2 linked regions of the Homo sapiens genome follow. The protein of the gene in region 2 binds, or shares a complex with, the protein of the main gene of each other region. Each region holds a gene or a part of one and is shown on either strand. Other genes may lie near its edges. A codon is read from its position in the direction of its gene.

What was found.
Region 1: the proteins of HASPIN (region 2) and H3C15 are in contact, whole or in part, in a crystal structure (PDB 4OUC), measured with the Homo sapiens proteins. Residues at the interface, in NP_114171.2 of Homo sapiens: Glu492 (codon at 1,852), Gly493 (codon at 1,849), Val494 (codon at 1,846), Asn522 (codon at 1,762), Ser586 (codon at 1,570), Ala587 (codon at 1,567), Asn588 (codon at 1,564), Glu613 (codon at 1,489), Asp649 (codon at 1,381), His651 (codon at 1,375), Trp652 (codon at 1,372), Gly653 (codon at 1,369), Leu690 (codon at 1,258), Asp707 (codon at 1,207), Asp709 (codon at 1,201), Leu710 (codon at 1,198), Thr712 (codon at 1,192), Gly713 (codon at 1,189), Asp714 (codon at 1,186), Gln718 (codon at 1,174), Phe719 (codon at 1,171), Tyr722 (codon at 1,162); in NP_001005464.1 of Homo sapiens: Ala2 (codon at 6,700), Arg3 (codon at 6,697), Thr4 (codon at 6,694), Lys5 (codon at 6,691), Gln6 (codon at 6,688), Thr7 (codon at 6,685), Ala8 (codon at 6,682).

What each region holds. Positions count from the first base shown.
Region 1 is NC_000001.11:149,846,691-149,859,357, reverse strand, and holds H3C15 (histone H3.2), read right to left. Parts: upstream 6,751-12,667; 5' UTR 6,704-6,750; coding exon 6,293-6,703; 3' UTR 6,233-6,292; downstream 1-6,232. Other genes in the region: H2AC19 (histone H2A type 2-A), read right to left, coding at 7,852-8,244. UniProt on the Homo sapiens protein: Core component of nucleosome. Nucleosomes wrap and compact DNA into chromatin, limiting DNA accessibility to the cellular machineries which require DNA as a template.
Region 2 is NC_000017.11:3,710,177-3,727,260, reverse strand, and holds HASPIN (serine/threonine-protein kinase haspin), read right to left. Parts: upstream 3,359-17,084; 5' UTR 3,326-3,358; coding exon 929-3,325; 3' UTR 562-928; downstream 1-561. Other genes in the region: ITGAE (integrin alpha-E isoform 1 precursor), read left to right, coding at 3,517-3,573, 3,878-3,973, 6,859-6,954, 10,463-10,573, 12,319-12,414. UniProt on the Homo sapiens protein: Serine/threonine-protein kinase that phosphorylates histone H3 at 'Thr-3' (H3T3ph) during mitosis.

The sequences.
Region 1 (12,667 bases), on a different chromosome or scaffold from region 2:
AGTCCAGTAGTAAGAGGCAGTACATATTCAATCTGCTGAGAAATGTAGACAATAACTACTATAAGAATCCTAATGCTACAGAAGTCACTGGCTGCTGGGAAACCGGGGAAAACTTGGCTATGGACGTGGGGGCTTGTGTCGGACTCTGAATAAAGAGCAGAATGATTGGCGTCCTACTGAGATACATAGTAAAGGGGGCGAGGGCAGGGAGGAAGTGGCAAGAATAACATTTGTGAAGATGTCCAGGTGAGAAATAGAGGTTTTAATGCTCAAGATGTTTCCTTTTCCCTTTTAAATCTGACCTGTGATTTCCAGCATTGCTATTTCGAATATCACTGATTGTTTTTAACTTTAAAGGCAATGCTGATGAATATATCTGATCCGCACCAAGATCCACTAAAGAAGGAGATCAAAAATTTGAAGATAAAGCAGAAAGGGAGTGGGGGAGAAAACACGTCCATTGTCTGAATTAGTGGTTCTCAAAGTGTAGCCTCTCATCTAGCAGCACTGATCACCTCGGATAAAATCTTGGGACCCATGCCAGACCTACTGAATGAGAAACTGAGGGGTGAGACATAGTAATCGGTGCTTTAAAAAAGCCCTCCCGATACACATTAAAGGTTGAAAGCCACTGATGCAGGTAACAGCTTTTCTTTTTTTCTTTTCTTCTTTCTTTCCCTCCCTCCCTCCCTCCCTCCCTCCCTCCCTTCCTTCCTTCCTTTCTTCCTTCCCTTCCTTCCCTTCCTTCCTCTTTCTTTTTTTGAGATGGAGTCTCGATCTGTCACACAGGCTGGAATGCAGTGGCACGATCTTGGCTCACCGCAATCCCCGCCTCCCGGGTTCAAGTGATTCTCCTGCCTCAGCCTCCCAGGTAGCTGGGACTACAGGTGCCCACCACCATGCCGGGCTAATTTTTGTATTTTTAGTAGAGATGGAGGTTTTGCCATGTTGGCCAGGCTGATCTCGAACTCCTGGCTTTAGGTGATCCACCCTCCTCGGCCTCCCAAAATGCTGGGATTACAGGCGTGAGCCACCGCGCCTGGCCTCTTTTTCTTTGGCATGAGCCACGGTGCCCGGCCAATTACTGAGAATTCCTGCCTTTTTCACAGGATTATTTTAAGGATCAAATGAAAAGTTCTGTGTGAAAGAAGAATGAGGCCATGAAGTGATACAGAAACCAAAGGTGATATATTTATTGCCTTTCCCACTCAATGTAGTTCGTTTTTTGTTTTGTTTTGTTTTGTTTTTTTGAGAGATGGTTTCACTCGACTTACTGTGACCAGGCGTTGCTTGGGTACTGCTGCTACTATGGAAATAAACAAAGACAAATCCTTACCCTGAGAAATGTTGCCAGCCTAATGCTGAGGTTAAGGAAGGGAAGGGGTATTAAGATAGGAGAGGGCAGAGGCAAGGAGGAGGGCCCAAAGAGATGAGGGCAAAGAAGAGCAAGGGAGCCGGGCACTGTGGTTCATGCCTATAATCCCAGCACTTTCGGAGGCCAAAGCAGACAGATCATGAGGTCAAGAGATCGAGACCATCCTGGCCAACATGGTGAAACCCCGTCTCTACTAAAAATATAAAACTTAGCTGGGCGTGGTGACACACACCTGTAGTCCCAGCTACTCCGGAGGCTGAGGCAGGAGAATCGCATGAACCCGGGAGACGGTGGTTGGAGTGAGCCGAGATCGCGCCACTGCACTCCAGCCTGGGTGACAGAGCAAGACTCCATCTCAAAAAAAAAAAAAAAAAGAAAAAAGAAAAGAAAAAAAAGAAAGAAAAAGAAAAAACAAAAAACCAGAAGAGCAAGGGAAGGCTCACAGGGCTGAATCTTGAAGAATGGGGGTTCTCAGGGTTACAGAGAAGGGGAGGACATTCTGGACAGAAATGGAATGTGTGAAGATATTGTGTACTTGGAGATTGCAGATGTCGTGTGGGGCTAAACATTCTTGTTCAGCTGCAAGAACATCTGAAACCTGGGAAGGCTGTGGGAAACATAAAGAACTAGATGTATAATATTTTCAGTTTTTTTTTAAATTAGTAACTATTAATAGAGTAGCACAAATTAATTGGGTGCTTGTTCTGGACCAGATACTGTGCTACTACTGTGCTAGGTCCTTTGTTTTTTTAGACATGGGGTCTCACTGCTGTTGCCGAGGCTGAAGTGCAGTGGCACAGTCACAGCTCACCACAGCCTCGAACTTCTGGCCTCAAGCAATCCTCTTGCCTCAGCCTCCTGAGTCGCTGGGATTACAGGCATGAGCACCGCAATTTACAGAAATTGTCACTTTCATGATTTCCAACAAAACAACGAGCAAGTTACTCGTTGTTTTACAAATGGGAAAAGTTAAACCTGTTGAGATTTGCTTCCTGAAGTCATGCACCTGTTTACATGGACAAGGCTAGGAATCAAACTTGGGTTTGTCTAACTCCAGAGTCCTTCCTAGTAATTAACCTCCGGTGCTCTGAACTGCCATGCAAAAGAATGTGAACTTCATTCTGAAGGGAATGGGAAGGTCGTGGAAAATTTTTAAGCATGAAAGTGACAGGCTCAAAACAGCAACACCAACCAACCAACCAACCAACAAAAAACCCTCAGTTTTTAAAAGATAGCTCTTGGCCGGGCGCGGTGGCTCACGCCTGTAATCCCAACGCTTTGGGAGGCCGAGGCGGGCGGATCACAAAATACAAAAAATACAAAACTACAAAAAATTAGCCGGACGTGGTGGTGGGCGCCTATAGTCCCAGCTATTCCGGAGGCTGAGGCAGGAGAATCGCATGGACCCGGTAGGCCAAGGTTGCAGTGAGCCGAGCTCGTGCCACTGCACTCCAGCCTGGGCGACAGAGCGAGACTCCGTCTCATAAAAAAAAAAAAAAAAAAAAAGATAGCTGTCATACGGAGTGGAAGCTCAATGGCAGGGCAGAAAGACCAGCCTGACTATGTAATCTACTAGACCAGAGCTGGCGAGGACTTCAGTTAAGGCATGGTCATGGGTGGACGGAGAAAAGGTGATACAATTGAAAGTCAGAAGACAGATTTAGTAATATTTGGAACTCATGAGATTTGGACAGAGGACAAGAGGAAGGGACACCCAACCAGAACAGATGGGGCTAATGAAGGTGTCTTCCAGGAAGATGGGGAATGTGGAAAGAAACAAATGGGCTTGGAAAGCAAGATGAGGCATGTGGTTTTGGAAATAAGCTGGGTTTGAAGTGCCTAGTATCCATCCAGAAGGACCTGTCTACCAGGCAGTTAGAAACATTGGTGTAGCCAGGCACAGTGGCTCACGTCTATAATCCCAGCACTTTGGGAGGCCAAGGTGGGAGGAGGGCTTGAGCCCAGGACTTCAAGACCAGCCTGGGCGATGAAGTGAGACCCTGACTCTACAAAAAATAAAAAAAATTAGCTGGGCCTGGTGGTGTGTGCCCGTAGTCCCAGCTACTCAGATGGCTGAGGTGGGAGGACCCCTGAACCCAGGAGTCCAAGGTTGCAGTGAGCTTTGATTGTGCTACTGCACTCCAGCCTGGACGAGTGAGACCCTGTTTCTCTTTCTCTCTCTATCTCCCTCTCTCTCTCTCTCTCTCTCTCTCTCACACACACACACACACACACACACACACACACAAAATGTGTAGAGCTCAGGATAGGGTCTCAGCAGAAGATAGCAATTTGGGAGCGCTTAGCTAAGGGACAGAAATAGTGAAAGCAGGCAATCAATCTCACTTGAGTTGCAGGGAGAAAAGAAGATGGCCAAGGCCAGCATGGGGGAAACCAGGAATATTGATGGGGAAGAGAAAGACATGAGAAGACTGAGATGGGGACCTAGAGAAGGATAAGGGTGACCAGGAGAGTGGACCCAGGGGACAAGTCCTCTTCTAAGGAAGAAAAATCAGTGTAAACGTGGCCATGTCTCTTACCACGTAGTTTCCCTCTAAACACACACACACACACACACACACACACACACACACACACCTGTCCCCCACTAGCCTAAGGCAGAATTAAATGTGAACAAAGCACGTTTTTCACTTCATAAAAGCCACAGATTCAGAGTGGACTTACTGGCAACCAAGGTAGCCACGTAGAAGCTGGTTATTAGAGGAAGAGGTGGGTTTTCTTCGAGACAGGGTCTCACTCCCTGTCACCCACACTGGAGTGCAGTGGCACAATCTCAGCTCACAGCAGCCTCCGCCTCCCGGACTTAAGCGATTCTCCCACCTCAGCCTCCCGAGTAGCTGGGACCACAGGCAAATGGCACCACCCCCGGCTAATTTTTTCATTTTTCTTTCTGTCTTTTTTTTTTTTTTTGGTAGAGACACAGGGTCTCGCTATGTTTCCCAAGCTGGTCTGGAACTTTGACTTCAAGCAATCCGCCCGACTTGGCCTCCCAAAGTGCTGGGATTAACAGCTGTGAGCCACAATGCCTAGTCAGAGGAAGAGTATTTCTTTACCCTATCCTTAATTATCCTTTAACTCTCACCTGAGGGTAGACAATGATTTAAGTACAGGGAATGATTAAATGTTAAAACTTAACATTTTAGAATGTTATCTTGTATTGATGAATTCAGCTTATGCTGGTCTCGCAAACAAATACGAAGACTGACAGATTCCTGTGAGTGCAGGCCTTCACAGTGCCAGGACCACAAGATGTAATGAATTCTATTCCTGACTGGATATAAAAAATGCCACGAAATTTTCCTTTTGAGATTCAGCCAGGGAGACCTCCTGGAGTTTAGAGGTACCCAGACTGGTGAGTAAAAGGAGTGTGACCTTGTGGGGGCAGTCAGAGGACCTAGATGTCTGACACCAACATCCCCAGGTTCCAGTCTCTGCTCAGTTACTACTGGGCCTGAGAAGCTGGGTGCAGAGATAGTGACCCACCCACCTCTGAAAGTCACTACTTTTTGAAGTCAGAATACCGCCCATACATTGTGGGCCTAAGCAGGTTACGAGGGTCTCGGCAGAGACCCAGAGGCATGCTCTAGAAATTGCTGTGACCCTGGAGCAGAAACATGTGGCAGTCCCCAGCAGAGCTCACCTACGCTGCTCTCCTCGCTTAACACGCCTCAGGAAAGGCAAAATGGCAGCTTTACAAAACGAAGTTTTATTCCATTTCCCCTTCTCCCCTCTTAATTCTCATAGATCGCTGCAGTGAATGCTTTTAACCTGTCAACTGTGATGAAACAAACAGAAAACCGAAGCCCTGGCTTCTTCTGAGGTGCAAATAAATGACCGAGAAGGTGTTATCTAAGACCTCTACAGCCATTTGTATCTGGCCGTGTGTAGAGTGGGCTCTGCAAGACCCTGCCTCACTTTCCCACTAAGAGGCCTTGGACTTCCCAGCTCCCAGAGACTGTAGAGATCACCTCTGTGGCCTCCTGTCACGATTTCCTAAGGCGAAGAGCTTCATTTGCCCAACGGAGGCCCACGTTCTTCCTGTCTGATCTACTGTCTTCCCAAGGATCTGAACTCGGGCACCAGCGTCTGCCCACATGTCCGACGAAAACAACGTAAAGGAACTACTGAGTCTGGACAGAAAATCCAGACATACCATGCAGCTTCTAAGAGGACCGAGTGCCTTCACTGGAATAGTGAATCTCCTTCTGTGGACATGGACAGGGAACGGCTCGATAAAGCCCAGATTCACAAAATTCCGCCCACACCCCGTGCCCCCGGGAATTTTGGCTTAGGGGCAGGATATGGGGGTTACCACTGTGCTAGTGGAGGTGGCGCGGGGACTGAACGGCAGCCCCAGCGCAGTTCTCCCCACGTTTGTCCGCAGAACCCCGGCGAGGCCGAGGTGGTCATTTCCCTCCCTAGCCGGATGGCCGCGCCGGGTGAGGCCGGTTTGGGCGCGAAGCACGGGCGTGTGGCGCTCCACTTCCGCAAAGGCCAGCCGCGCTCAGGACCGCGAGCCCTGAGCGTCCCCCTAGTGACCCCTGGCCTCGTGCCCGACGCCCCGTCTCTCCTGCCCCGGCCCCCCCGCCACGCAGGGCCCCGGTCACGCGCGGGGGGAGCCGGACCGCCAAAGCCCGCGAGCCGGCGCCCAGGAAAGCGTCCGCAGCCCGGCCAGTGCGGATAGGCCAATTGGCCGAAGTCGGCAAAGCTCAAGACGGCACCGCAGCAGGGGGACCCGACCCCGTTTTGTTGGGAGCCTAAGCGGAAGTGCCTTCCCCGCTCTAATGCCGGAGGAGCACGGAGGGCAAGCGGTACAGCTTCTTCCAAGTGCTGATGTGGGTGGCTCTGAAAAGAGCCTTTTGGATACGATGGAACCTCCGGCCGAACCGCCACTTCTTAAGCCCGCTCTCCACGGATGCGGCGGGCCAGCTGGATGTCCTTGGGCATAATGGTCACGCGCTTGGCGTGGATGGCGCACAGGTTCGTGTCTTCGAACAGCCCCACCAGGTAGGCCTCGCTGGCCTCCTGCAGCGCCATCACGGCCGAGCTCTGGAAGCGCAGGTCCGTCTTAAAGTCCTGCGCGATCTCGCGTACCAGCCGCTGGAAGGGCAGCTTGCGGATCAGCAGCTCCGTGGACTTCTGGTAGCGCCGGATCTCCCGCAGGGCTACGGTGCCGGGCCGGTAGCGGTGCGGCTTCTTCACCCCGCCCGTGGCCGGCGCGCTCTTGCGGGCCGCCTTGGTGGCCAGCTGCTTCCTCGGGGCCTTGCCGCCGGTCGACTTGCGAGCAGTCTGCTTAGTACGGGCCATAGCGAACCAAAACACAGGCTTACCAGCGCAGCGGCGGGGAGAAAAACGAGCTCCTAGCCCCGCCGCAGCCGTCTTTATAAGCACAGTCTTTTCCCGATTGGGCGGAACAATAATTGAAAATCCCGCGCTGGCTGTCCATTGGCTGTGACGTCACCCGTCCTAAAGTCACCGGTTGGCTTGGGCAGATTCCTCCCTAATCCCGCCCACCCCGCCTCACTTTCTACTTACCAGTTGGCGAAGTTTCGCAAGCTTGTTTTTCCCCTTTCCTTCAGGGTGAAAGTCATTTTCCATTGCAGCTTTGTCAGATTGTTCCCTTTCCGCCCTTCGCTTCCTTAGAACACACTGCCCGCAATACCCCCCCTTTCTTGCTGCGCCCTACAGCTCCCGCGTGGAACCTCATTCTTCCATTTGCCCCCCGCCCCCAGTTGCTACTTGGCGGATCGTTTTTCGCCTGTCGGGTGCCTTTTGGGTGGGAGAGGTGCCCGCCCCCAGGACGCAAGATTCCGCCTCCGAGGCCCTTACTCTCCGCCGCCAGGGCGCTTTGGAAAACAAAACAGAAACTAAGACTTAAGTCAGCTCAGTGAAGCCAAGACCCAGCTCCGCCACACTAGCGAGCACTACCCGCTCAGGGCCCTCCCCATCGGGGGTGGGGACGAGGAGCACGTCCCGCTGGTGCCAGACTAGGTCTAAGTGTCCGGCCATAGCCTGCGGAAACCACTAGGGAAGCGCGCGCTCCGCGCGCAACACTTCAGCGCGTTGGGTACTGCCCGCGGCGCTGGTGTTTGTGACTGTGTGGAGCGGACCGTGGCGGCGCCCAGGACGTTTGGTGCCTGCACCTGCCCTGGGAAGTCCTAGGACTGGGGACCCACTCATCGAAGAGCCAAGGCAGTTACGTGCTCCAGATGGAAGACGGCGCGCACACACACACACCCCGCCCCGCCCCGCCCCGTCCCGTCCCGTCCCGTCCCGTCCCGTCCCGTCAGCTCCAGGTTCGCTATTCACTACTGAGGAACGCTGGACTGAGAGTGGCCAGCATTAACAACTCTTTTATTTGAAAACGTGGGTGGCTCTGAAAAGAGCCTTTTGAGTTCACAGGTGCCCCTTCGAGACGCGGGCCGGGCTGGGCCCACTTGGGCCGGACGTCAGCCTCACTTGCCCTTTGCCTTGTGGTGACTCTCCGTCTTCTTAGGGAGCAGTACGGCCTGGATGTTAGGCAAGACGCCGCCCTGGGCGATGGTGACTTTGCCCAGCAGCTTGTTCAGTTCCTCGTCGTTGCGGATGGCCAGCTGGAGGTGACGAGGGATGATGCGCGTCTTCTTGTTGTCCCGAGCCGCGTTGCCCGCCAGCTCCAGGATCTCGGCGGTCAGATACTCGAGGACCGCAGCCATGTAGACGGGCGCGCCGGCCCCCACTCGCTCCGCGTAGTTGCCTTTGCGCAGCAAGCGATGCACTCGCCCTACCGGGAACTGAAGGCCAGCGCGGGACGAGCGCGACTTGGCCTTGGCGCGGGCCTTGCCTCCTTGCTTGCCACGACCAGACATGACAGCGATAGTAGTCACCGAGAGAAACTCCTGCCTGGCGATCGGGAAAGTCGCCGAAAACGCCGCTGCTTCACCTTTTTATAGACAGAACGGCGATTGTCCACGGAGCACTTTGATTGGCTCAAGCAAATTTTGTCCCGATAGCCAATAGGATAGCTCAGCCAGAATCCACTCATTTACATAATCTCGTCTCCCTCGCATTGCGCGCCGCGGAAAACTCGCGAACCATAACGCAGCGTCATGCGCACAGCCTCTGTAAGTACACAGTCGTTTCCGGTAGACCCCGAGCCTACCGCTCTGCTTGCGTTCTCGGGGGTCGGTGTCGGTCTTGGGTCTGGCCATGCCTGAGCCTGCAAAGTTCGCGCCGGCTCCCAAGAAGGGCTCCAAGAAAGCCGTCACCAAAGCCCAGAAGAAAGACGGCAAGAAGCGCAAGCGCAGCCGCAAGGAGAGCTACTCCATCTACGTGTACAAGGTGCTGAAGCGGGTCCACCCCGACACCGGCATCTGGTGCAAGGCCATGGGCATCATGAACTCCTTCCTCAACGACATCTTCGAGCGCATCGCGGGAGAGGCGTCCCGCCTGGCGCACTACAACAAGCGCTCCACCATCACGTCCCGGAGATCCAGACGGCCGTGCGCCTGCTGCTGCCCGGCGAGCTGGCCAAGCACGCCGTGTCCGAGGGCACCAAGGCGGTCACCAAGTACGCCAGCTCCAAGTGAGTCCCTGCCGGGACCTGGCGCTCGCTCGCTCCCTCCCTCCCTCCCTCCGCGGGTCGCCGGCTGCTTTGTCTCCAAAGGCTCTTTTCAGGGCCATTTAACCACCTCAGTTAAAGAATCTTTCTTGTGTTGTCAGTCCCAGTTGATGTTTTTGGCTTCACGTCTGGTTAACTTTAGGAGAGCACACAACACCAAGCACAGATAACTATTTTCTTTTCACATAGGCATTGCTATAAGTAAGCTTACATAGATTGATAGTGGTATCTTACTATGGCATAGATAGGTTGGGGCTTGCCTTAGAGGGCTGCTCTTGAACTGTCTTTGGCCTGGTTACGTACCCGTGAATATGTGCCCAGGAGATTGTTTCCTGTTGAGAAACGCAGTGTTAATTTTGATAAGTTTATGTAAGATCAAATTGTGTATATGAACAAAGGTTGGGTCCGCTCTTCAGTGGTAAAATGAAGGTAGAGATTAAATGCATTGTATGCTCTCAGATGTGTACTTAAAAGGGAATAGCTCAACTTTTATATATGGTATCGAGAAACCTGAGGTTTTTATATCATTGGTTCACAAACACGTGCCTACACCACCACTCATGTGAAAATTCCTTAAGGAGGTAGATGGAAGTTCGATTTTGATAACCAGGAGTTAACACCGATAACCTTCTGCGCTTTCTAGTTGAGATACCCTAAAATCTACCCAATACCATTAAATGGTTTTTTTCCCCAAGAGTTATCACTCGGAAAAGCTTGTCCAGTTTAAGGGTTTGTTCCATACAATAGCAACAAAATATACGATTTCTGAAGCCAGAGTTTGGGATCCCTGAAGAGGAGAAGGACCACCAATTTGCAAGGGAGGTTGATTAGGTTTGTTTTCTGCTTTGGGAACACTGGACTTGGAATCACACAGCCTCATTAACCTCAAAATATTATACTGATTGCTCTGGGGATCGTAAATCCTAGGCTGGCCACAATAGAAGCGAGGAAAGCAATTAGGAGGCTGTTGCAGTGTTGTGGGCTGGAACAGTGATTAAGACTTAAAGTCTCTCCAGACCAGCAGCATCAGCATTACTTGAAGTTACTAAAAATGAAAATTCCCAGGTTCCATTATTTGTGTTAAGCTTTCTGGGTGATGGTGATATATGCTAAAGTGTGAAAAACAACGGATAAATGACATGCTGGAGTGCAATGGTGGTAATGGAAACAAATGTTGGATTTTATCTTTGAGGTAGAATTAATAGGTGTGGCTGAGGAACAGGATTTAGCTAACAGTGAAACCCCTAGATTTTTGGCTTGAGCAACTGTGTAGATAGTGGTACTATTAGGATAGAACACTGAGAGAAGATATTCGTTGGGACACTGAAGGGAGATCCAGAGTTCCGACTGAAATTTGAGAAGCTCTTTGCTATTCAAGTGGATATGTGCAGTTGACAGTTTGAGAGATGCATCTAGGGTTCAGTAAAGACAACACAAGCCTGTCTTTAGGGTCTACCTGTGAACTGTGAACACAGCAATGAGAATGATGGACATCACCTTTAAGTATTTTTCTAGACTTTATTACTCATGTGTTTGTCATGAGGTGTAACTTAGTAGTTCATAGTCCTATAATGTATGTTATTGACTAGGTAGCATTTATTTTTCTAATTGTTTCTGTTATAGTGCTGCCACATGTGTTTCCCAGAAACGCATTTTACCCACAGTTCTTAGGGTTGGCCTGATTAGTTTAATTGCTGTCTGAACCTGCTTCTTACTGTGATTAGTTCAGGAATCTAGATCAAACTCATTGGCATTTAACATTTCAGGAAGTGAACTGAGTAACAACTAACTCAGCAGGGGAGTGTAGTATGCTATTATCTTTTGGGAAAGCAGCTTATTTGCTTTCAAGAGGCAGCAGGAGGATGGACTGTCTTTAGGTATGAAGGCAAGAATGATTATAGACAATATGCAGAGGAGGACACAGTGTGGGAGAATCAGGGAACTGAGCCACTCATGGAGTTCAGCCAACCTTGGATCCCTGCTGCACCTTTGGACTTCCAGTTAAGCCAATTTGTCTGACATATTTACTTATACCAGTTTGAATCTTGAAATATTTCAGGAATAATAATTTCCTAGATAAAAGGAAAGACCTTTCATGAAAGGTCTCAAGTCAAATAGGGTCAATTAGGACAGAGTTGCTCCAATTACATATTTGGAACAGATGTCCAAATGTTAATACTTGACTAAGGCTAAAGACTAATATTACCATCACAGGAAAAATGTCCAGGGTTTTTTTTCAGATGTGAAATTTTATTTAAAAATTTTAAATAAACTAAATCAAAAAATTTTAGTAGTTGTACTAATTTCCTGGGGCTGTCAAAGTACCACAAACTGTATGGCGTAAAACAACACAAAGTTATTCTTTCATGGTTTTAGAGGCTAGAAGTTTGAAATCAACGTGTTGGTAGGGCCATGCTCTCTCCAAACCCACTAGGGGAAGACTCCTGTCTTTCAGTGTCTGGTAGCCCCACTTGTTCTTTGGTTTCTGGCAGCATAACTGTAATCTCTACCTCAGTTTTTTCATGTATGTCTCCATGTTTTTTTACTTTCTTTCTTGAGATGGAGTTTCACTCTTGTTGCCCAGGCTGGAGTGCAGTGGCATGATCTTGGCTTACTGCAACCTCTGTGCCCCGGGTTCAAGCAATTTTCCTGCCTCAGCCTCCCGAGTAGCTGGGATTACAGGCATGCGTCAGCACGCCCGGCTGATTTTGTATTTTTGGTAGAGATGGAGTTTCATCATGTTAGTCAGGCTGGCCTCGAACTGACCTCAGGTGATCCACCTGCCTTGGCCTCCCAAAGTGCTGGGATTACAGATGTGAGCCACTGCACCCGGCTGTCTCCATGTCTTCTTATAAGGGTATCAGTCATACTGGATTAGGGCCCACCCTAAAGACCTCATTTTAACTTGATTACCTCTGTAAAGACCCTGTTTCCAAAGAAGGCAAAATTCTAAGCAACTAGGGGTTAGACTTCAACATATCTTTCGGGGGGACACAACTCAACCCATAACAGTAGTCAATGGCTGTGGCAGGCTAAATGTGGCTCCCAAATATGTCCATATCCTAATCCCTACAGCCTGTGAATATTACCTTATATAGCCAAGAGGATTTTGCAGATGTGATTCTGAGATTGAGAGATTATGCCAGATTATCCAGGTAGGCCCCAAATGTAATCACCACAGTCCTTATAGGAGAGGCAAGAAAGTCAAGTGTAGAAGGAGGCGATAGAAGGAGAGAGGGATTTGAAGATTAATAGGCTGCTTGCTTTGAAGACAGAGGGAAGGGACCATAAACCAGAAATAAACCTCTAGAAGCTGGAAAAGGCATGGAAATAGACCCTCCCTTAAGGTCTCTGGAGGGAGTGCAGCCTTGATTTCTACCGAGTAAAATTGATTTTGTACTTCAGACCTCCAAAACTGTAAGAGAATGACTGTTGTTTTAAAACCATTGAGTTTGTAGTAATTTGTTGCAGCAGCCACAAGAAACTAATACAACATCTATATAGAATTTTTTCAATAATTGGAGAAATTTGAATATGGATTGCATATTAATATTACTGAATCAGCATTAAATTTGTTAGGTGTAATAATGTGATTGTAGCTATTTAGGAGAATATCCTATTTTTAAGAGACATGCCACCATATTTAGGGAGAAGTGCCAACATATTTGCAG
Region 2 (17,084 bases):
CTGAGACTCTTTTTTGGTCTCTGCTTTGCCTCAGCCTCTTTGCTTTCAGTTGTCTCATCTGTAGTCTGGTTCCCAAAGCTAGCCTTGATACCTGAAGCAACAGGCTCTGCTCAGTATGAAGCTGAAGCCTGGGCATTTTTTTTTTGCTCAGACTACATAAGTGTTAAGGCTCAAAAAACGGAAAGGAATTTACAGAAAGGACTCTGCTGACAATTAGAAAGAGGGCTTATAGGTCAGGTGCCATGGCTCACTCCTGTAATCACCCAGCACTTTGGGATGCCGAGGTGGGTGGATCACAAGGTGAGGAGTTCGAGACCAGCCTGGCCAACATGGTGAAACCCCCATCTCTACTAAAAAAATACAAACAATTAGCCGGGCATGGTGGTGTATGCCTGCAATCCCAGCTACTCGGGAGGCTGAGGTAGGAGAATTGCTTGAACCCGGGAGGCGGAGGTTGCAGTGAGCTGAGATCGCACCACTGCACTCTAGCCTGGGTGACAGAGCAAGACTCTGTCTCAATAAAATTAAAAAAAAAAAAAAGAGGGTTTATAAATATAAACGTTTGTTTTCACATGTAGTTTATTTATTTAAAAAAATAGAGACAGGGGTCTTGCTATGTTGACCAGGCTAGATATGAACTCTTGGGCTCAAGCGATCCTCCTGCCTCAGCCTCCCGAGTAGCTGGGACTACAGGCGCACGCCACTGTGCCCGGCTAGTTTACTTCTTTCAGAACATTTGTTATCAGCAAATTTAAACATTTCAACAAATATTTCAGTTTCCATTTGGAAACAAAATTCTTGTTTGAAAAGCTGACTGGAAACCTGTGAGAATGGGAGTTCCACCCTCCTGTGGGGATGGAGGTTGAAACAGCACCAGAGGCTTCAAGACCAGTCTCCTCTCATTTCGGGGCAGTAAGATACATTTAGCTTACTTAAACAGACTGTGCTGGCAGAGCAAGTCAGTGGCAGAGCTGAAGTTCAGCATTGTCCTGTGGAACTCCTGGATTTTTCTCTTAATTTGCTTCATGGCAGGAGTGTTACATTTAGTCTTGAAGGTCATTTGTTTCAGCATCTTGTCTGTCAGGTAATGTAACCAGAGCACATTACTATAAGGGTGATATTCACCCCAGCGGTTGTTATTCTCCTTCTTCATGAGCCTGTAGATGTCAAACTGGTAGTCACCGTCACCGGTAAACAGGTCCTCATCCATGGAAACGTCACAGAAAACCACAATCCCATCCCGTTCCAAGCGCGACAGGGTGTAGTCAATGATGCTCACTTGCAACCCACAGCTGGGGATAGTGCTGCTCTTCCCATTGAGGGTGTAGTGGAGTTTTTTGAGGCTGGTTTTCTTTAAGAGCACGTTCCCCCAGTGTAAGTCTCGGTGCTCAAAGCGCAGTGATGCCTCTGCCACTGCGAGGGAGGCTGTGAGCTGGTGTAGAATGCTCTTTGCAGTAGCCAAGGAAGACAACTTGGTTCGCATTTGCTCTAAGTCAATCCCTCCAAACTCAAATTCCAGCACAATGAAGAGCTGGTCGTCTTTAAAAAAATCAGGCCGGTCATTTGCAGAGCCTTTGGTTGAATTATAGTGATCCCAGGCTTTGAGGAGCAAGGGAGGGTAAGATCCCTGGACACAGTGCACTGAGTTCAGCCCGATAAAGCCTTCTGTGCGGTTGCACACTTCACCGGATAAGAGGCTCAACTCTTTGGAGATGATGATCTCTGGCAGGATTTCCTCAAAGGTTTTCTGATGGGATCCATTGACTAAATCTGGTCCTTCAATAGCAATGATTTTTATGGCTACGGGTGTGTGATCAGCAATTGTTTGAAACACTTCGCCAAACACCCCTTCCCCAATCTTCTCACAGCGTTGCAGTTTTTCTGTGGGAAGGCAATGGCTAAAGGGGACAGGACCCTTCTGACTGCATTCCCCATAAACCTTTTCAGCATCAGATGCCTTTTTGTTTGAAATACTTAGAGTGTTTAAGGGGCTTAGCAAATACATAGAGGAGGAGTGCCAAGAGGACGGAGCACCACTTGTTCTGTTCATGACAGGCCGGTTTGAACATTCTGATAGGAGGGATCCAGAGAGAGAAGTGGCAGTGGTATAGATGCTGCAGACCTCTGACACATCAGTCACAATTTTCTTCTTGTGGAAACTGAAGGAAGCCCTGGTTTTGGTCCAAAAGCAGACATTCTGTAAAGGAGTCAGGTCCTGGGTGGGGAACGAATCTTTTCCCAGCTTTTGGCCCTTTTTAAAGCGGTGGGAATGGAGGAGAGAGGTTTCCGTTGCCTCCTGATGTTTGCTCTTCCGGCTTGATCTAGTTCTCTCCAGCCTGTCTATTCCCCTTGGCACAATGCGGCCCTTGGGAACACTGGCCTCCTGATGCTCTCTCCGGACGGCCTCTTGAAGCCCTCTCTCTTGACAAGAGTCCTGGCCTGTGGCCCTCCTCTTGCCTGTGCTTGACAGACCTGGACCCTCTGGTCCATTTCCCACCACCAGTTTCCTTTTACAGCAGGACTCTCTCATATTCTTCCCATCTGCCCGAAACTCAGAATCCTCAGGGGTTCCTGAGTTCATAAGGCCAAAGAGAACTGACCTGAGGCTGGCGCGGGTTTGGTGGACCATCCTGGTGTCCTTGGCTCCTCCTGTCGCTTCCTCCTGGGAGCAGGGGAGAGATGCTCGGTCCAGGGAGACTTCTGGGAGGTGGAGGCCGCTCGGGACGGCTGAGGCTGCAACCAGACAGGCGGAGGTGCCGATCGAGATGACACTGTCCCTTGGCGTTGGGGACCCGGGGCAGGGCGAGGCCAGAGAGCTGAACAGGGAGGCACTGATGCCCAGCTCGTCGCCGTCCCTGGGCTGGCCGCACACGCTGAGGTCCGGGCTGAGGCGGCCGGAGTCGCGGCTGGGGAAGGGCGGAAGTCGGAGCGGGCCGCAGGGTGTGCTGCACTTCTGCGGGGGCCGAGCTCGCAGCCCCAGGCGTCTTGGGGTCACGGTTAGGCTTGGGCGAGCTCGCAGCTTCCAGCGCTTTGGGGTCACGGTCAGGCTGGGCCGGTCCTTGGGCACTCGGCCGCCGGGACGCCTCCGCCGCCGCCTCACCGGGCTGCCGGGGAAGTCGGGGTCGTCGGGATCGTCAGGATCGTCGGACTGCGAGGGGTCGCCGATGCTGGCGTCGCTGCTGCCGCTGCTGTTGAAGAAACGCCTCCGGTCCTGCGGCGGGAACCACTGCGCGGCTTCCCGGCCCGGCCGCCGCTGTCTCCTGCCGTCCGCAGCCCCATATGTGCGGAAAAGCCGGCTCCCAGGTCCCGGGAGCGAAGCCGCCATGGCCGGCACCCGCCAAGAGGTTCAAACGCAAACATCGCGAGACTTCCGTGCGACGCGGACGCGCCCGCCTGCCGCGGGGTCCTAGCTCCCGGCCCTGCGCATGCGCACCTCGCCAGGGCCGGGGCCGGGACGGGACGGAAAACTGGCGGCTTGGTTTGTTCAGCGCGTCGCGGTCATGGCTCTCGTTTCAGGCCTCCACGGTGTGCACCTGGAGTCAGGAGCGCGCTTGTGCGTACAGTTCGGTTCAGGTAAGCGCGGCCGTCCCGAGAGGCCAGGGGAGGGCGGAGGGCCTGAAGCGGGTAACGAGAGGCCAGGAGACTGTTTTTCCTGGGTTACCCCTGCCGGCCAGTGCCGGGGGCTGCCAGGCCCTCCCTAGCTTCGTCCCTGGGTCTCAATTGCTCCCGCTGGAGCTTCGCTTGGGCCGAGGTGAGCGCTGAAATTGCTCACACCCTCTATTCTGGGACCTTACGATGCTCTGTGTCCGAAGTGTTAAAAAGATTTCAGACTTTCCGCACGGAAAGGAATTGTGTTCACTAGACCTCGCTTTTCCAGCATGTGGAAGAATGGCATTCAGTGAGCTGTGTCATCGCTTCAGATAAAGAAAATGTCACCGTGGCTGCAGAGATCTCCTGGGATCACTCTGAGGAGGTGTTTGAGACTGAAATGCTCCAGATTTGATTATCCAGTTGCTCACGGGCATCGCCCCTAGAAGAGATAATAGCATCTTTGCATAACATGTCCATGTCCAAAATAGATCTTTTGGTGCAAAAAACCAACCCTCTGTCCCAACCCGTTCCTTAGCTACCCTCAGGAGGGAGATATACTCCAGTTACAGTACAAGGAACTCGAGGGATTACCTGTGACTCCTCTTTCCTACATCCCCACGTCTATTCCAGCAGCAAGCCCTGCCATTTCAGGGCCAAAATATATCCTAAACCCATTCACTTCTCTCCATTTCCACTGCCGTTGTAATTCAAGCTACCCTTTCTTGCCAGGGCTGTTGCAATAACCTTCGGCCTGCCTTTCTTGCCTCTGCTTTTCCCACATTCTTTACAAATAATTCCCACGTAACAGCTATCCGTCTTCTAAGAGCAGACATTAGATTGTGCCATTCCCCTGCTTATTAAAAATAACAAACAAACAAAACTGATGCTTGAGCACACTTAGACTAAAATCCATACTTTTTTCATGGCCAGAGCAAGGCAGTACTTGATCTGGTCTCTGCTTAATTCTTCAACTTCATCTCCTAGTACTCGCCTTTCTCTCCCACTGCCCCTTTTATAATCGGGTTATTCTGTCCTATTCTTCTAGCTCGCCAGTACAGCATTATTCTGGCCACAAGACTTTGTACTTGCTGTTCCTTTGCTTGACACTGCTCTTCCTCTAGGTCCTGACGTAGGTGGTTTCTTCTTAAATTTAGCTCAGGTGTTCTTTTCTTTTTTTTTTTTTTTTTTTTAGATGGAGTCTTGCTCTGTCACCCGGGCTGGAGTGCAGTGGCACGATCTCTACTCACTGCAACCTCCGCCTCCCGGGTTCAAGTGATTCTCCTGCCTCAGCCTCCCGAGTAGCTGGGATTACAGGCGCCGGCGACCACGCCCAGCTAATTTTTGTATTTTTAGTAGAGAGGGGGTTTCACCATGTTGGCCAGGCTGGTCTCGAACTCCTGACCTCAGGTGATCGCCCGCCTCAGCCTCCCAAAGTGCTGGGATTACAGGCGTGAGCCACCGCACCCGACCTAGGTGTTCTTTTCTTTTCTTTTCTTTCTTTCAAGACGGAGTTTCGCTCTTGTTGTGCAATGGCACGATCTCGGCTCACTGCAACCTCCGCCTCCCGGGTTCAAGCGATTCTCCTGCCTCAGCCTCCCAAGTAGCTGGGATTACAGGTATGCGCCACCATACCCGGCTAATTTTGTATTTTTAGTAGAGATGGGGTTTCTCCATGTTGGTGAGGCTGGTCTTGAACTCCTGACCTCAGGTGATCCGCCCTCCTTGGCCTCCCAAAGTGCTGGGATTACAGGCGTGAGCCACCACGCCCGGCTAATTTTGTATTTTTAGTAGAGATGGGGTTTCATCGTGTTGGTCAGGCTGGTCTTGAACTCCTGACCTCAGATGATCTACCCACCTCAGCCTCCCGAAGTGCTGGGATTACAGGCATGAGCCACCACACCCGGCCACACGTGTTATTTTCTTAGAGAGGCCTTCCCTGATCACTTATTCTAAAGTGGGAACTAGTGATCAAGTGATCAAGTTTAATGTTTTACAGTGATCCAGGTGACATTTGTGAGGTCTCAACTGAAGAAGTAGCAATGGGGGTGGAAAAGAAAGGGACAGATACAAGAAATAATTTAAAAAAAAAGAATTGTGAGTGTGGTGGCTCACATCTGTCATCCCAACACTTTGGGAGGCTGAGGCGGGAGGATTGCTTGAGGCCAGGAGTTCAAGATCAGCCTGGGCAGCATAGTGAAACCCCATTTCTTAAAAATAAATAAATACATAAATTAGCCACGCATGGTGGCTCATGCCTGTAGTCCCAGCTACTTGGGAGGCTGAGGCAGGAGTATCGTTTGAGCCCAGGAATTTGAAGCTTCAGTGAGCTATGATTGAGCCACTCCATTCCGGCCCGAGTAACAGAGTGAGACCTTGTCTCAAAAAAAAAAAAAAAAAAAAAAAAAAAAAGGAAAAATCTCTTACGTTAAATAAAATGAATAAGCTGGGTGTGGTGGCTCATGCCTGTAATCTCAGCACTGTGGGAGGCTAAGGTGGGTGGATTGCTTGAGCCCAGGAGTTTGAGACCAGCCTGGGCAACATGGTAAAACCCCATCTCTACAAAAAATACAAAAATTAGCCCAGTGTGGTGGGGTGCACCTGTGGTCTCAGCTACTCAGGAGACTGAGGTGGGAGGATCACTTGAGCCTGGAAGGTTGAGGCTATAGTGACCCATGATCATGCCATTGCACTCCAGCATGGGTGACAGAGCGAGATCCTGTCTCAAAAATAAGTCAGTCAGTCAAGAACTGACTTTGGATGGCACAAGGGAAAAGAAGTTGAAGAAAAGGCCAGGCGCGGCAGCTCACGCCTGTAATCCCAGCACTTTGGGAGGCCGAGGTGGGTAGATCATCTGAGGTCAGGAGTTCGAGACAAGCCTGGCCAACATGGCAAAACCCCATCTCTACTAAAAATACAAAAATTAGCCTGGCATGGTGGCACATGCCCATAATTCCAGCTACTCGGGAGGCTAAGGCAGGAGAATCGCTTGAACCTGACGGGGTGGAGGTTGCAGTGAGCCGAGATCGCACCACTTCACTCCAGCCTGGGCGAAAGAGCGAAACTCCATCTCAAAAAAAAAAAAAAAGGAAGTTGAAGAATAACTGCAGATGTCTTGTTTGGGTAACTTTATGTAGTGTTGTGTACGTTAGGGCCATTAACTAAGCCCAGGAATACCTTTAAAGGGAAAGGTGGTGAAGGCTGTTCAAACACAGTGAGTTCATGTCTAAAATATGTTTTGTTTCCCTCATTCCTTTCCCCATCTTCTAGTTACTAAAAGATGTAACTGAACTGCAGATCCTTGGTGAAATATCTTTCAACAAATCTCTATATGAGGGACTGAATGCAGAGAACCACAGAACTAAGGTAATTCCTGGCTGGCTTCTGAGTAGTGCCCAAGGAAAATTGTGCCTAACCTTTGAGCACCTCCACAGACATTCTGTTGCCCTCTTCCTGTTTTCAGCCTTAACACTTCTGATCTTGGCTCTGCCATCGCTGCCTTTGTGACCTTTGAGTGAGTCAGCTTCTTATGAAATAAGGCAATTAAGAGGCCTAAGCTGAGGAGTTCTGAGTTGAAATAACTAGGCTGGAATCTGCAGTATATACTTTGATTTGAAAATGGATTGATTAAAAAAAAAAATTTCGCAGCTGGGCGCAGGTGGCTCACGCCTGTAATCCTAGCACTTTGGGAGGCCGAGACAGGTGGATCACCTGAGGTCAGAAGTTCAACACAAGCCTGGCCAACATGGAGAAACCCTGTCTACCAAAAATACAAAAATTAGCCGGACATGATGGTGGGTGCCTGTAATCCCACCTACTTGGGAGGCTGAGGCACGAGAATCGCTTGAATCTGGGAGGCAGAGGTTGCAGTGAGCCGAGATCACACCACTCCACTCCAGCCTCAGTGATAGAGTGAGACTCAGTCTCAAAAAATAAATAAATAAATAAAAAATGAATTACCTAAGTGAGAAATTGTTTTTTGTATCCAGTAACTGTCTTAGTGTGCTGTATCAGTGTTTAGTTATAGTATTAAACAGTACTCAGGAATGCATAAATCTTTTATAAGATTTAGACTAGATACTGGAACTCTTGGAATTCTTTTTGCAAAAGTATGACTAGAAGTCAGACTGATGCCTGTGATTTGTGGACTGAATGCTTTGTGTGTTACCCTGTGTTTTCATTCTTGTTGACCCTTGCCTGGACATGGCTTCAGAGGTGATCTATCTGTGAGCTCTGAGCTCTTTAGTTAGGCATGATTCTCTACTAGAGGGAATGTCAGGAGAGTGATGCTGGATTGCTAAATATAAGGTCCTCTGTTTTCCTCCCTGGAGGAGGAGAAAGGAGCAATTCTCTAGACATGCCAATATAACATTTCCTTTTATTTTTAAGTAGTGTATTTCTTTTTCTTTTCTTTTCTTTTTTTTTTTTTTTTTTTTTGAGGAAGAATCTCACTGTGTCGCCCAGGCTGGAGTCCGTTGGTGCCATCTCGGCTCACTGCAACCTCCACCTCCCCAGTTCAAGTGATTCTTCTTCCTCAGCCTCCCGAGTAGCTGGGATTACAGGTGCCCACCACCATGCCTGGCTAATTTATTTATTTTTTTTAAATAGAGACAGGATTTCACCATGTTGGCCAGGCTGGTCTCGAACTTCTGACCTCAGGTGATCTGCCCGCCTTGACCTCCCAAAGTGCTGGGATTACAGGCATGAGCCACCATGTCCGGCTAAGTAGTGTATTTCTAATACAGAAAATAGAGGGAAATGGAAAATACAGAAAACGGAAGAAATAGAAGTGCCCCATTATTGCACTGCCCAGATTTTAACAAATAAAAATAATAGCAAGAAAATCCAAGCCATACAGAGAATGGTACCAAATGAAAAATAATTGTTCCTTCATTTCTCCCTTCCCATGCCCCCAGCAGGGAGGAGTTACTATTAAGTTTCTTATGTGCACATTTTAAATTTGTATGTTTCCCCCTCTTACTTACTGATACTTTTATTTCTATAGCATGGATTCCCCAAAATTCCTTTCTTTAAATCCAATATCCTAAGCAAAGTGTTAAGTAGTTCCTGACAATAAGCCCCTGACTTACAGTGACTCTATGAGTATAAACAAACTGTATCCAAATGCATTTCAGCCACAAGAAAGGGAAAATCCAGCTCATGCAGCATAAGGGCATATGCTGTTTATCCAGTGAGGGAGGCCGGCCTGGGGCGATGGCCTGGCTTCTTTGGTCCTTGTACTCTGCCGTGTGGGGGACGCATTCCTTCATGGCCAGCACAAAGTTGCCACATCTCCAAATGCTGTATTTTCACATGGCAGGATACAAAACAGGAAGCAAGAAGTCAGTAGCAAAAGGATGTTGGATTTTTCTTCATGTGCCTTCCCTTTTCAGGGATGAAACAGTTTCCAAAAGCTCCCAGGAGACATCCTCTTACATCTTATTAGTGAGATCTGAATCTCATGTCAGTCACTGGCAAAGGAGAATAGCTGTGTCATGATCACCTGAGACCAACGATGATTCCTGAATAAAATCCAAAAGGAGAGAGGGGCCCCTGGGCAGGCCAGCATCCGTGTTTGCTGCAAACAGTAGTACCCGGTGCCTTGCTTCTCCCTTAACCTCTACTTGGGCATCTTTGGGGCACTTTTGGGAATCTGTGGGTTTAGAAGAAGATAAAGGGAGGTGGCTTTGAGAAATAGGGACATTTCTTCTACTCACATCTGGCCTGTTTCCCGAGTCACCTTGGGACTTCCTTTCACTTCCCAAACCCAGGGTCTTGAGTCCCCCTCCTTCTCCTGTAGAATATTCCAGCCCTCTTTCTGTTCTTCCTCCCTCTTTGTTGCTATGGTACCTCCCTATTCTCAAAGCCTAGGACTTCACTCCTATTTAGTTCAGCTACCTATGAGCTAAATAGGACTGGAAGGTCAACTTTAGGTCAACCAGCATTTATAACTTAATTGGAAGAGGCCTTAAAGGTAAGTTTGTCCAGCCCTTCACCCCGTACAGAAACCTCTCCAAAGCACCCCTGACCTTGGTGCTTAAACATACACGTGAAGGGTTGCTCTGGGCAGGCAGAGAAGTCTTGTTGGCTCTCTGGCCCCACCTAAGTCCTGGGAACTTCCTCTGGCCACAACTTGGAAGGGCCATACCTGGGTCTCAGGAAGGACATCTCCTGAACTTTCTAGCTGAGCCCTGCCAGAAGAGAGATTAGACTCCCGAAATTGGGAGAGCCTTTGGAAAACAAAACCTGCGGATGACTTCTAATAGCTGAGCTCTGCAAGTAGTACACATGGATATAATTTGCATTTATTATGTCCCTTAGGTAATACACACTTTTTAGTCTGGTGAGGGGAAGACCAGTACTTTTGTCATATTTTATGTGGGGAAAGTGTATTACCAAAGCCTTTAGGGATCTGTGCAAGATCAAAAAGAGCCGTCAGAACGGAGTTGGAAAGGACTTGGAGATCATTTAAAGGAAGTCATCATTTTAAAGAGCATAGGCACGGGGCTCAGGGACATAGAGCAGTGTAGCGGCGTGACAGCCTCACAGTCCTGTGTTGAGACCGGATTCCGTGGGACCCTCTTTCAAGCTGTCAGAGCATCTTTAACAGAAGGTCATAATCTCCTGACAGACCTAGCCCTTCTAGATAAGGGGCCAGAATAGTTTCTTACGAAGTATTTGGGTGATTGGATAGTTTTAGATGATCTAAAATGCTGCATCAGGGAATATCTAGCTTTTTGCTTTACTGTCATCAGCTTTGATCAATACACGGGTTGTTGCCAAGTCCTCGTATTTTGCTCCTTAAAATAACATGTAGGATTTTTTCCTTGTTTGCTTCACCTGATTTATTGGGCGATCTCTTTGTCTTGTCTAGATCACTGTCGTCTTCCTGAAAGATGAGAAGTACCATTCTTTGCCTATCATCATTAAAGGCAGCGTTGGTGGACTTCTGGTGTTGATCGTGATTCTGGTCATCCTGTTCAAGGTCAGTTCTACTCATGGCATCACAGTGAGGGAAGACTGGGCTCTAGTTTTGGGCACAGAACTCCTTAGGACAGCCAACCTCTGACTTAGAGCAGCTGCCCTGGCCTCGTGGCCACTTTTTTCTCCTCCTTCAACTGCACACCCCCATTTAGACAAATGAGTAAAACAGTATCTGTCTGAAAAGAGAAAACTCTGAGTTATAAAGAGTGATTTTATATATATTTCTTTGGTACCTCCCTATTCTCAAGGCCCAGAACTTAATACTGTTATGTTCGGTTACCTGTGAGTTCAATAGGGCCTGGAAGGTCAACCCTAGGCCAGCATTTATAACTTACTTGGAAGAGGCCTTAACGGTAAGGCCTTAAAACAGATGTGACTGTTGTTCCCCTGTTGAAATCTTTTCCTTGCCTTCCCCTGTCTTAATGTGCAAACTCTTCTACTGCTATTTAAGATCCTCTCCTCTCTGTCCGCTACCCGTCTCTGCCCTTAAGTGTTGCTTTTTTTTCTTTTTTTTTTTTGAGACGGAGTTCCGCTCTTTCGCCCAGGCTTGAGTGCGGTGGTGCGATCTCGGCTCACTGCAACCTTCCCTTCCCCCCACCCTGACCCCGGGTTCAAGAGATTCTCCTGCCTCAGCCTCCTGAGTAGCTGGGATTACAGGAATGTGCCACCATGCCTGGCTAATTGTTTTGTATTTTTAGTAGAGACGGGGTTTCACCATATTGGCCAGGCTGGTCTCAAACTCCTGACCTTGTGATCCTCCCGCCTCGGCCTCCCAAAGTTCTGGGATTACAGTCATGAACCACCACTCCCAGCCTCTTTTTTAAAAATAAACACCAGGGTCTTTGTCCCCCAAGCTGGAGCTCAGTGGCACAGTTAAGGGCTCACTGCAGCCTCGTACTCCTAGGCTCAGGTGATCCTCCCATCTTAGTCTCCTGAGTAACTGGGACTGTTACTCAGGTGCATGCCACCACACCCAGCTAATTTTTTAATTTTAATTTTGTGGAGATGAGGTCTCCCTATATTGCCCAGGCTGGTCTCAAACTCCGGGGCTCGAGCCATCTTCTCATCTTGGCCTCCCGAAGTGGTGGGGTTACAGGCATAAGCACCTGACCTTGCTTTTTTCTCCCAACAAGTCAAACTATTCCCTAAATAGGTTCGTGCCTCTGCGTACGCGTAGGCTGCTTTTCTTGTCAGGAATGCCCTCCATGACTGCTCACTTCACTCACTGTCTTCCCTGAAAGCGGTCTAGAGACTCCTGAGTCCTCTGTGCTGGCTTCTGTGTGTTTGCTGTGAGCTCCCTTCTAGAAACCCTTCCAAATGGCAGTCATCACACTGTGTTGTAATTATCTCTTTTTCCTACTAGATGATGAGCTTGATGTAGGAAGCTGTACTTGATCTCCTTCTGTCTTCAGCATCATAGGCTATACTGAGTATTTTTGCATAAATAAGATTAGATCCAGTACAGCCGAAATTATCATGCTTTGCAAAATAAGTTAAAAAGGTTCAGCTGCTCGGGAGAGCAGGGTTCAGAGGAAGGTGGAGTCAGTTCTGATTGAGGGATGAGCACCAGAGGTCTTGAAGGATTGGACTCTCCAGGAGAGATTCAGAGTAAGTTAGGAGAAGGGAGTAGTAAGTATGAGAAGCAGAGGAATATAGGGGCTATTTAGGCAACAGCCAGAATGCCGGTTTTCTGAAACAGATGGCTATCTTTGGCCTGTAACTGGACTTTTCCTTCCTTTGTTTCAGTGTGGCTTTTTTAAAAGAAAATATCAACAACTGAACTTGGAGAGCATCAGGAAGGCCCAGCTGAAATCAGAGAATCTGCTCGAAGAAGAGAATTAGGACCTGCTATCCACTGGGAGAGGCTATCAGCCAGTCCTGGGACTTGGAGACCCAGCATCCTTTGCATTACTTTTTCCTTCAGGATGATCTAGAGCAGCATGGAGCTGTTGGTAGAATATTAGTTTTTAACCATACATTGTCCCAAAAGTGTCTGTGCATTGTGCAAAAAGTAAACTTAGGAAACATTTGGTATTAAATAAATTTACACTTTTCTTTGCAGTAGTGCCTTTAATCTGGAAATACAGTATTACTTAGGATTTGCAGTACATTTTGCCTGATAGGGCAAGTTTTCATTCTTATTTTTAAAAAATGATAGATTGTGGCCGGGCATGATGGCTCACGCCTGTAATCCCAGCACTTTGGGAGGCTGAGGCAGGCAGATCACGAGGTCAAGAGATCGAGACTATCCTAGCCAACATGGTGAAACCCCATCTCTACTAAAAATACAAAAATTAGCTGGGCATGGTGGCGGGTGCCTGTAGTCCCAGCTACTCAGGAGGCTGAGGCAGGAGAATCATTTGAACCTGGGAGGCGGAGGTTGCAGTGAGCCGAGATCGTGCCACTGCACTCCAGCCTAGCAACAGAGTGAGACTCCATCTCAAAAAGAAAAAAACAAAATAGGCGGGGTGCGGTGGCTCACGCCTGTAATCCCAGCACTCTGAGAGGCTGAGGCAGGTGGATCACGAGGTCAGGAGATGGAGACCATCCTGGCTAACACGGTGAAACCCCGTCTCTACTAAAAATAAAAAAAATTAGCCGGGTGCGGTGGCAGGTGCCTGTAGTCCCAGCTACTCGGGAGGCTGAGGCAGGAGAATGGCGTGAACCTGGGAGGCAGAGCTTGCAGTGAGCCAAGATCACGCCATTGCACTCCAGCCTGGGCAAAAGAGCAAGACTGTCTCAAAAAAAAATTATCGATTGTATCCTTTCAGATAATTCTTAAGTATCAATTTTTCAGATTTCCAGAAGAAACTCTTTGGGGTTTTAATTTAAACATACAGGTTAAGTTTGGGAGCATTGATATCTTTATAGATTTCCTTTCTACTCCGCTTGCTGCGATTTATTTTTTAATTTTTATTTTACTTTATTTTTTTTTTTTGAGACAGAGTTTTGCTCTTACTGCCCAGACTGGTGTGCAATGGTGTGATCTTGGCTCACCGCAACCTCCGCCTCCCGGGTTCAAGCGATTCTCCTGCCTCAGCCTCCTGAGTAACTGGGATTACAGGCATGCGCCACCACGCCCAGCTAATTTTGTATTTTTAGTAGAGATGGGGTTTCTCCATGTTGGTCAGGCTGGTCTCAAACTCCTGACTTCAGGTGATCCACCTGCCTCAGCCTCCCAAAGTGCTGGGATTACAGGCATGAGCCACCGCGCCTGGCAATGCTGAGATTTTTAAAAACACTCTGCAGCAAGGTTTTATAATTTTCTTCAAAGGGGTCTTAATTTATAAAGACTTACTTCCAGCTGCATTTTTATTTGTTTATTTATTTTGGGGGGGTCTCACTGTGTTGCCCAGGCTGGAGGGCAGTGATGCAGTCATAGGTTGCTGCAGCCTTGAACTTTTGGGTTCAAGCCGTCCTCTGCCTCAGCCTCCTGCGTAGCTGGGACTACAGGTGCAAGCCACTATGCCCGGCTCATTTTTTAATTTTTCTTTTGTAGAGATGGGATCTAGCTATGTTGACCAAGCTGATTTCAAACTCCTGGCTTCAAGTGATCCTCCTGCCTTAGCCTCTGAAAGTGTTGGGGCGTGAGCCACTGCGCCTGACCTGTTATTATGCTTTTGTTGCTACTGTGTGAAAATACCGTTTTTTCCCCCGACTGTTTAGAGTTTGCACTTAGAACAGTTGGTGGTTTTGAATGTTTATCTTATCTGGCCATTTTACTGAACTGTGGTTTTGTTTTTTTGGAGACGGAGTCTCACTCTGTCGCCCACGCTGGAGTGCAGTGGTGTGATCTCTGCTCACTGCAACCTCCGCCTCCCGGGTTCCAGCAATTCTCCTGCCTCACCCTCCCGAGTAGCTGGGACTACAGGGACCCACCACCATGCCCAGCTAATTTTTGCACTTTTAGTAGAGATGGGGTTTCACCATGTTAGGCTGGTCTCGAACTCCTGACCTCAGGTGATCCACCCGCCTCAGGCTCACAAAGTGCTGGGATTACAGGCATGAGCCAAATCCGGGCCCGGCCAAACTGTTTTTAAATCACTCTTTAGTTGATTCTTTGGGATTTTTCTAAGGAGACAATTTTATTTGCAAATAATGGCAATTTGGAGTCTTTCTGATATTTCTACTTTTGGCTACCCTTACTTCTTTGACTAGGACGTGGAGAGCTCTGAGAAGTAAACCGTGTACCTGGTTGTAATGGGAGGGCTTTTCTGGCCCTCCTCTGCCTGCCTCACACCTGCCTGTTATCCCAGCCCCGGCTGCTCTGCCTTTGGGTAGTTTCTAGGGCTTGGTTGGAGCAGCCCATTCACCTCTCATGGAGCCCCGTACCTTGCCAGTGTTACATCACTAGGCTGTTGGGCACCATCTGCTTCCCTGTTGATCTGATTCCATCATCTTCATTTCGTTCAGAAATCCGTCTGTGCTATCGGTCACTTGATGATATTGTTCTCTGTTTTCCAATGCTGCCACAGGCTTTTCCCCTTCCTTGTAACTCTTGGGTTGTTTCAGTGGAATTTGCCTTTGAGGGAAAACACACAGGTAAGTTTGCTTACTTATTTTCCTGTTGTGCTCAGGAGTTGTGTCCAAGTTTTCATATTATATAAAAGCCCCTGCTTTTTATACTTTTTAAAATTGCAAATAAGACCCCACTTCCATCGTCACTGGGAAGCCTGTTTGTTATTGACTTACTGAGTCGTGCTGATCCAATTGGCGTTAGAGCAAGGCAGCTGTAATCGGGGGAACTACATCAGGAACTACTTAATGAGGAGGAAGACACTTTTAAGTGCGACATGGTTAGATTTTACAAATTCATATGCTATGGCTTGGGCCAAGGTCTGTGGCATACACCTGTAGTCCCAGCTACTCAGGAGGCTGAGGCATGAGAATCGCTTGAACCCAGAAGGCAGAGTTTGCAGTGAGACGAGATCGTGCCACTGCACTCCAGCCTGGGCAACAGAGCGAGACCCTGTCTCAAAAAAATAAATAAATAAATAAATAATGAGGCCGGGCGCAGTGGCTCACGCCTGTAATCCCAGCACTTCGGGAGGCGCCGACGTGGGCAGATCACCTGAGGTCGGGAGCTTGAGAGCAGCCTGACCAACATGGAGAAACCCCATCTTCATTAAAAATACAAAATTAGCTGGGCGTGGTGGTGGGTGCCTGTAATCCCAGCTACTCTGGAGGCTGAGGCAGGAGAATCGCTTGAACCCGGGAGGCAGAGCTTGCAGTGAGCCAAGATCGCGCCACTGCACTCCAGCCTGGGTGACAGAGCGAGACTCCGTCTCAAAAAAAAAAAAAAAAAAAAAAAAAAAAAAGAATGAGTGCTGGGCTCAGCCCTGTGGAGTAACCTTTTCTCGTAATTGAATGAGGTCTAAATAACGTGGCCAATTTAGGTTTTCACACCTGCTTGGTTTCATTGGTTTCATCCCTCCAAAGTTCAGATGGTATCATGAGAGAAACAGGTTATTCGAATCTGCACTCACTATCCTGTACCAGGGCAAAGGAGAACAGAAAGCACATGGGGTACTTTCCCAGCCGGTCTTTCTTCTACAAGCTGCCTTTTAGGTGCTAGGCCTTTCTCATTTCCTTTTCACCCTCTGCCTGGGACAGGAAATGGTAGAGCTTGCATAGATCCAAGAACAGTGAGTCATGCCATAGGGCCACTCTGCTACCCAGAAAAGGACTGAGCTGGGACCCGCTGAACTTTGGATGCAGTTATTGGAGGGAACAGCAGTTTTTTTTGTTTTGTTTTGTTTTTTTGAGACAGGGTCTCGCTCTCGTTCATGCTGGAGTGCAGTGGTGCGATCTCGGCTCATTGCAACCTCCGCCTTCTGGGTTCAATCGATTCTCATGCCTCAGCTTCCTAATTAGCTGGGACTGCAGGTGCATGCCGCCACGCCCAACTAACTTTTGTATTTTTAGTAGAGATGGGGTTTCACCATGTCGGCCAGGCTGGTCTTGAACTCCCGACTTCAAGTGATCCGCTCACCTCGGCTTCCCAAAGTGCTGGGATTCCAGGCGTGAGTTGCCACGCCCGGCCTCCTGCTGTCTTAAATAATCTGCACTACTGCATTATTCTGTGCACATCTCTAATACATTTACAAGGAGGGGTTTTTGGTTAAGATTTTCTGGGTCTTCTAGTCATAATTATATTATAATGGCACCAGAATTTTACCATTACTTGAACTAGGAACAGATTCAGTATATGGAATCAAGGGAAACTTTCATTTTATTAATTTATTTATTTATTTATTTATTTGAGATAGAGTCTTGCTCTTTCTCCCAGGCTGGAGTGCAGTAGCATGATCTCGGCTCACTGCAACCTCCGCCTCCCAGGTTCAATCGATTCTCATGCCTCAGCTTCCTGAGTAGCTGGGACTGCAGGTGCATGCCACCACACCAAACTAATTTTTGTATTTTTAGTAGAGACTGGGTTTCACCATGTTGACCAGGCTGGTCTTGAACTCCCGACTTCAAGTGATCCGCTCACCTCGGCTTCCCAAAGTGCT